Homo sapiens: one gene and its partner. The protein of the gene in region 2 purifies or fractionates together with the protein of the main gene of each other region. This does not show direct contact. Each region holds a gene or a part of one and is shown on either strand. Other genes may lie near its edges.

Evidence for each region.
Region 1: the proteins of HPSE2 (region 2) and RNF13 purify together in Homo sapiens (affinity purification with mass spectrometry; one large-scale study listed by BioGRID and IntAct). This does not show direct contact.

What each region holds. Positions count from the first base shown.
Region 1 is NC_000003.12:149,868,649-149,872,302, forward strand, and holds part of RNF13 (E3 ubiquitin-protein ligase RNF13 isoform 1 precursor), read left to right. Parts: intron 1-3,380; coding exon 3,381-3,506; intron 3,507-3,654. UniProt on the Homo sapiens protein: E3 ubiquitin-protein ligase that regulates cell proliferation. Involved in apoptosis regulation. Mediates ER stress-induced activation of JNK signaling pathway and apoptosis by promoting ERN1 activation and splicing of XBP1 mRNA.
Region 2 is NC_000010.11:98,459,669-98,462,960, forward strand, and holds part of HPSE2 (inactive heparanase-2 isoform 1 precursor), read right to left. Parts: intron 2,152-3,292; coding exon of another isoform or gene 2,118-2,151; exon of another isoform or gene 2,082-2,117; intron 72-2,081; coding exon 1-71. UniProt on the Homo sapiens protein: Binds heparin and heparan sulfate with high affinity, but lacks heparanase activity. Inhibits HPSE, possibly by competing for its substrates (in vitro).

The sequences.
Region 1 (3,654 bases), on a different chromosome or scaffold from region 2:
CTCTCTTTCTCTTGTTATTCCACTCCCTCCTGGCTTGTATTGTTTTTCAATGAAAAGTCTGTTGCCAGATGAATTGGAACTCCTTTGTATATCATTTTCTTCTTTTTTCTTGCTGCATTTAGGATCCTCTCTTTGTCCTTGACCTTTGAGAGTTTGATTAGTGTATGTCTTGGGGTAGTCTTATTTGGGTCAAATCTGTTTGTTCTCTGACCTTCCTGTAGCTGGTTATTTACATCTTTCTCAAGTTTTGGAAAGTTTTTTATTATTTTTTTGAATAAGCTTTCTATACCTTACTTTTGCTCAGCTCCCTCTTGAACACAATAATTCTTAGAGTTAGTCTTTTGAGGTAATTTTCTTTATCTTGTAGGAGATCTTTATTGCTTTTCACTCTTTTCTTTTTTCTCTTCTGTGTACTTAAAAAATAGGCTGTCTTTGACTTGGCTGATTCTTTCTTCTCCTTGATCCATTCTGATGTTGAGAGCCTTTAATGAATTTTTCAGGTCAGCAGATGTATTTCTCAGTTCCAAAATTTGTTTGATTTAAACAAAATTATTTCAATTTTCTGGTTAAAATTTTCTGATAAATTTCTGAATTTCTTTTCTGTGTTATCTTGGAGATCACTGAGTTTCCTTAAAACTACTATTTTGAATTCTTGGTTAAAAAGTTCACATATTAGGCCGGGCGCGGTGGCTCACGCCTGTAATCCCAGCACTTTGGGAGGCTGAGGCGGGCGGATCACAAGGTCAGGAGATCGAGACCATCCCGGCTAAAACGGTGAAACCCCGTCTCTACTAAAAAATACAAAAAATTAGCCGGGCGTAGTGGCGGGCGCCTGTAGTCCCAGCTACTTGGGAGGCTGAGGCAGGAGAATGGCATGAACCCGGGAGGCGGAGCTTGCAGTGAGCCGAGATCCCGCCACTGCACTCCAGCCTGGGCGACAGAGCGAGACTCCGCCTCAGAAAAAAAAAAAAGTTCACATATTGCCATCTTGTTAGGGTTGCTTGTTGGTTTCTTGCTTCGTCCATTTGGGGATCATGGTTCCCTGCTTGCTCTTGTTTCTTGTGGATGTATGTCAGTGTCTTTGCATTGAAAGATTAGTTATTTATTCTGTTCTTCTCTGTCTGGCTTGTTTTGGTTTCTATTGGATGTATTTGGTTAGAGGTTATTTACTGCTAGGTTACTGCCTCCTTTTTGGCTATAGGTGATGCCTTAAGCTTAGGTTCACCTTGGCTCTAGTAAATTATCAAAATGCTGCCCTTCCCAAAGGGGCAGTTCCCAACAGGGATATCTTGGCACTGTGGGAAGGCTGACTGTGGAGGTTCATGCCCAGTGGACCTGTGGGACAAACCTACTGTATGGTGCTACTGAATAGCTACTGTGATTTGGCATCTCCTTTGGTAGAATTACAAAGGAGGGCTCTCCTTTCCAGGGCTAGGGATTGTAGTCCTGCTTCCCCTCTTAGTCTCTATCTACCTCATGGATATTTCTCCCTTCAGGTACTTGTGATGCTTTCTGTGGGTTAAGGAAGGGACAAATCTCCTCCTAGGGAACCCAAGATAGTGGGCAATCTGGTTCCACTTTGGTCTTACTTTTCCAGTGTAGAAACAGTGAGTTGGAGGGAAATTTTCCTTGCAGTTGGTGCTCGGCAAAATGGGGGGAGGGGCATAGTAGATGTGGAAGTCTGATTCTCTGTCTGCTGGGAGTTTTTTTTACTTCTCTGTGGCCCTGGGAATGATCTCTCCTTATATTTGAGTTCTAGCTTATTTCTGGCCGTAATCTCATTGCTGTACATTTGTTTTTCTTTTTCTATGGGGGGAGTCAAACCAGCTTGCTTCTGCATCATCATTTTGGAGCTGGAAGCCAACCTATATGGCTTGAGTTTAATTGCTGTAATAATCATGTTGAAAAATATTTCCTACACTATATGATTTAGCATTGGAGCAAAAACTTAGTGTTTGCAGAAAGGCACTCAGAGCAGGATGCAAATTTAACAAGAATAAAGCAAATATTCATCATTGGAAGGATGACCACAGTTGTACTTCGTTGCAAAACAAAAACCGAGTGCTTTATGGGATTAAGAAGAGGAGCTATTATATGAGCAAATGAAAGAGTGATACATTTTATACCCAAGATATGTACAAACACTTTCCATATCACAAGCTGAGCAATATAATTTCAGGGAGGAGAAATTGCCAAATCCTGTGGAATAGATGATTGGTGTGACCAGTTCAGGACCATACAGAACTGTTGTTAAGGCATTGTCTCATAGCTTTAATTGCCTCCTTCCTTTATAAATGAAATCAGTGAATTTGATCATCTTTTTATGTGTTTATTCACTTTTTACAAAAGATAGACATTTGATTTTTCTGTTTTAGTCTGTTACCAGATTTTTTTTTTTTTTTTTTTTTTCCGAGACGGAGTTTCGCTCTATCGCCCAGGCTGGAGTGCAGTGGCAGAATCTTGACTCACTGCAACTTCCACCTCCTGGGTTCAAGCCATTCTCCTGCCTCAGCCTCCCAAGTAGCTGGGACTACAGGTGTGTGCCACCATGCTCGGCTAATTTTTGTATTTTTAGTAGAGATGGGGTTTTGCCATGTTGGCCAGGCTGGTCTTGAACTCCTGACTTCAGGTGATCCATCTGCCTCGGCCTCCCAAAGTGCTGGGATTGCAAATGTGAGTCACTGTGACCAGCCTGTTACTACATTTTCTTATGTCAAACCATCCTGCATTCCTGGGAAAGCAACTTGCTGTTTACTTTTTAAATTCATGGTTATCTCGTGGACGTCTTTTCAGTTTAGTGTATACAGGTCTTCCTTATTTTTTTAAATGGCTGCATTATTTTCCTATTGTATAAATATACTATAATTGTTTAAATAGTTACCTTGTGGATATGCATGATTTCCAGTTTTTGCTATTAAAAATAATGTACCAATGACTGTCTTTCCACATACACCTTACATACTCAGGCTAGCATTTCTGCAGAATAAATTTCTAGAAATTTATTTATTATGTGCATTTCATTGTCTGCTAACATGAAAGAAAGTTAATTTTTAAGACATATTTGCTTGGTTTGAAAATGTCAAATATTGTTCGAAAATATACCAGTGGTTGTCTTTGGGGTGATTGGCTTATGCCTGAGTTTGCTTATTATTATTATTTTTTTAACTTCAATACAAAAGATAGAACTTATTTTAGAAAACTAAATGCTTGTGAAAGCAAATGCTGCTTTAGAAGTTCCGTGATTGTGAGCAATTTTACATGCCCAATGATACATCTAGCATAATGCAAAACACATGACAAATCGAAAAGATATTTGTAGAAGTAAGTTGATTGATTTACTGAGTGAAACAGAGAGATAATTTTTACCAATTCTTTTTCAGGGTTTTTTGATTAACTCAAAACCAGAGAATGCCTGTGAACCCATAGTGCCTCCACCAGTAAAAGACAATTCATCTGGCACTTTCATCGTGTTAATTAGAAGACTTGATTGTAATTTTGATATAAAGGTATGATTATCTTTTTTCATTTTTTGTTTCCTATTTGTTCAGTTAGCTAATTTAAATCATTTACATCCTCCCTTGTTTCAGAAAACATTTAAAATTTAAAATCCAGTAAGATTGAAAATAAACTGGATTCATAGAATAGAAATAATGT
Region 2 (3,292 bases):
GGCGGGGCTTCAATTCTGGGAGGGTCCCGTCGTCCACCATCACTAAGGGCTGGCCATTCAGTTGCACTGACCTACAGTGAGGAAAAACAGTATGGGACTCATTATTGCATTATAAGGGAGCCACTGCAACAAAGCCTAGCCCCAGATGGCCTGGCAGTGTCTGATACACACACACAGCTGACACTTATTGTTACTGGCTATGCCCTAGATTCTGACCTAGGTGCTTTACTTTAATAACTCATTCAAACATCCCAACAACCCCCCCACTCCCCTGAGGTAAGTAACTATTAATATCATTATCCCCATTTTATCTAGAGTGGCTAGGTGACTTGTCCCAAGTCACACAGCTTGGAGGTCCAGGGTTTGAACCCAGGTAGTCTACCTCCATAGACACATTTAGACAAGTGAAAAGTCTGTGATGCAGAAGCTGGAATGTTTCATTCCTATTTTTTAAAAATCACAATATCAGCTCAGTTTGACTTTTCCACCTAAAGAGTTTTTACCTGTGGAATGATACATGGGCTTAAGATGACTTCAGAAATCTATTTAACTCATATCTCATTAATTTACTTGACAGATTAGATAACTGACATTACCTTGCTTGTCTAAGGTTATACGGAAGGGAGACAGAGACATAGGTAACACCTCTACTTTTTCTAATTTAAGAATGAGTTTTGGCTGGGTGCAGTGGCTCATGCCTATAATCTCAGCATTTTGGGAGGCTGAAGAGGGAGGATCGCTTGAGTCCAGGAGTTTGAGACTAGCCTGAGCAACATAGCGAGACCCCATTTCTACAAACAATATAAAAGCAAAATTAGCCTGGCATGGTGGCTACTCAGGAGTTTGAAGTGGGAAGATCACTTGAGCCTGGGAGGTTGAGGCTGCAGTGAGCCAAGATTACACCACTATACTCCATCCTGGGTGACAGAGAAACTCTGTCCCTAAAAAAAACAAAAAATGAGTTTTCATATTTAATATTAACAGATGTTTCCATTTAGCAAAACAGCAAAGTAAGTGATAAAGTAGGCATTTGTGATCACAATTCATCTATCTTGCTTTTATCCTTTCTGTATAGCCAGCCACTTTCACCCTGAGAAGGGGGACTACATACATAGCAAACTTAGAAAAGAGAAACAGCTCATCTTATGCTGGATAGAGGGAAATGCCACCTATCCTTGACCTATGGTACCAGAATCCAGATAATGTTCCAGCTGTTCCTGACAGCCATGCACCCAGGTGGAAGCTTAGTTTTATGGGTCAGCAGAAAAGGCCAGAAACAGGCCACCAGCTGGAAATAAGGTTGTGAGTCACCCTCAGAAAATCAACATTGCATAGTGATGACTGTTTCTGGGCCTTGCCCAACCTCCAGTGTGATAACATTGCCGTGACATCATCTGAGCTGTAAAGAGAATAGAATGTTATAAATTGATATAGAGGTCTTTGTTTAGTGTTCCTTCTGTGCTATGAATGATAGACTGCTTTAGAGAGAGATAATCAGACCCATGCCCAATAGAGCAGTGAATTCCCAGAGATAAGTGTGTTGTAAATTGCTCCCAATGGAGAGCTAGGCAGAGAAGAGATCCAGGCCTGGCCCCACATGGGTAAGTTTGGGCTAGGTCCAGATCTGATAGGCCAGAGGGAGCAGGCCCCCTCCCTTTGCTAGAATGACTGAGTGAATAAGTGAGTAGGAGGCTTCTATATGGAGAGCGAGGCCTGCCTCTGGAAGGCATGGGGTGGGAGAATTGAGATCTGAAGGTCAGTGTTGACCGCATCAGATATGCAAGGAGCTTTTGCTTCCAAATATGAGAAGTGACCCTCTGTAGTGAAGACAGCCTACTCATTGGAGTGGAAGGCAGGGTGAGGAGAGTGGTTCAGTTACAAAAGAAGCCCAGATGGGTCTTCACAGTGTATTTTCATTATTTTGTTTCAGGTGCTATGAATATCTATCACCCAGATATAAGCACAGTCAAACACGAGTTCAATAATACCGATTAATCTTTCTAAGGCATACTCAAATTTATATCAGGTCTCTGCTAGAAAACCTTCAATGGTTTCTCCCATATACAGAATTAGGTGCAAACCTTTCTTCTGAAGAATTAGGTAATGCCCTTTTAGATTCAGATGATCCCACAGTATTGACATCTTTGGGTTCTGGGGAGTGCAAAACAACGTGTGATTAGCAAACCTTTAAAAATCTATACTAATAAGGAGTAGTTGTCCTGGAACAGGCCCTATTCTGGTTTCTTTATTGGTTGGTTAAAAAGCTAAGAGTAGAACCAGGAAGCATGGTGAAGATTCTCTACTGAAATCTCGAATTCCAGGAGCCAAGTTGCTAACTAGCTAGATGGCTTTGGCAAATCCCCTAACCTCACTGCCCTGTAGCTTTTGCATCTGTAAGAACGTTATATAGGCACCAAAGAAATGAAATAAGAAATATGAAAGTGCTTTGAAAGCATAATGAACCATATACTTAAGATATGGTGTTTTTGTTGTTGTTGTTCTTTTTATTTTTATTTATTTATTTTTTTGAGATGGAGTCTCGATCTGTTGCCCAGGCTGCAGTGCAGTGGTGCATTCTTGGCTCACTGCAACCTCTGCCTCCTGGGTTCAAATGATTCTCCTGCCTCATCCTCCCGAGTAGCTGGGACTACAGGCATGTGCCACCACACCTGGCTAATTTTCGTATTTTTAGTAGAGACGGGGTTTCACCATGTTGGCCAGGCTGGTCTCGAACTCCTGACCTCAAGCGATCCACCTGCCTTGGCCTCCCAAAATGCTGGGATTACAGGCATGAGCCACCGTGTCTGACCTGTTGTTGCTATTGTTTTTAATGTCACTGTGGACAGATGCACTTGTTGGTCCTTATCATACCTGACTGCTCTGTGGTACTCACATTTTCAGGTCTCCATTCTCAAAACCCTCTCTCCCCTTGGCTCCCATGATATTTCTCTCTGTTTTCCTCCATTTCTGGATGGCGTTTTGTTTTCGTTTTTGTTTTTGTTTTTTTGAGAGGGAGCCATTCCCCTCTGCCTGCTTCTCAGATGCTAGGGTTCCTAGTGTTTTGTCCCTGGACTCTTCTGTCCCCACACTCTGCACTCCTCCCAGGTTGCTGCTGCTCTCACCCTTGACTTCGGTCACTATCCACAAGCTGATGCTCCCTAAGCTTGTATCTCTACCCTACCTACATTCTTTCTATGAACTTCTGTATCTCCACTTGGCTGTCCACAGGAATTTCAAAGTCACTAGGTCCAAATTCAAAATCTTCTCCTCAAACTCTGTCCTTATCTCTGCT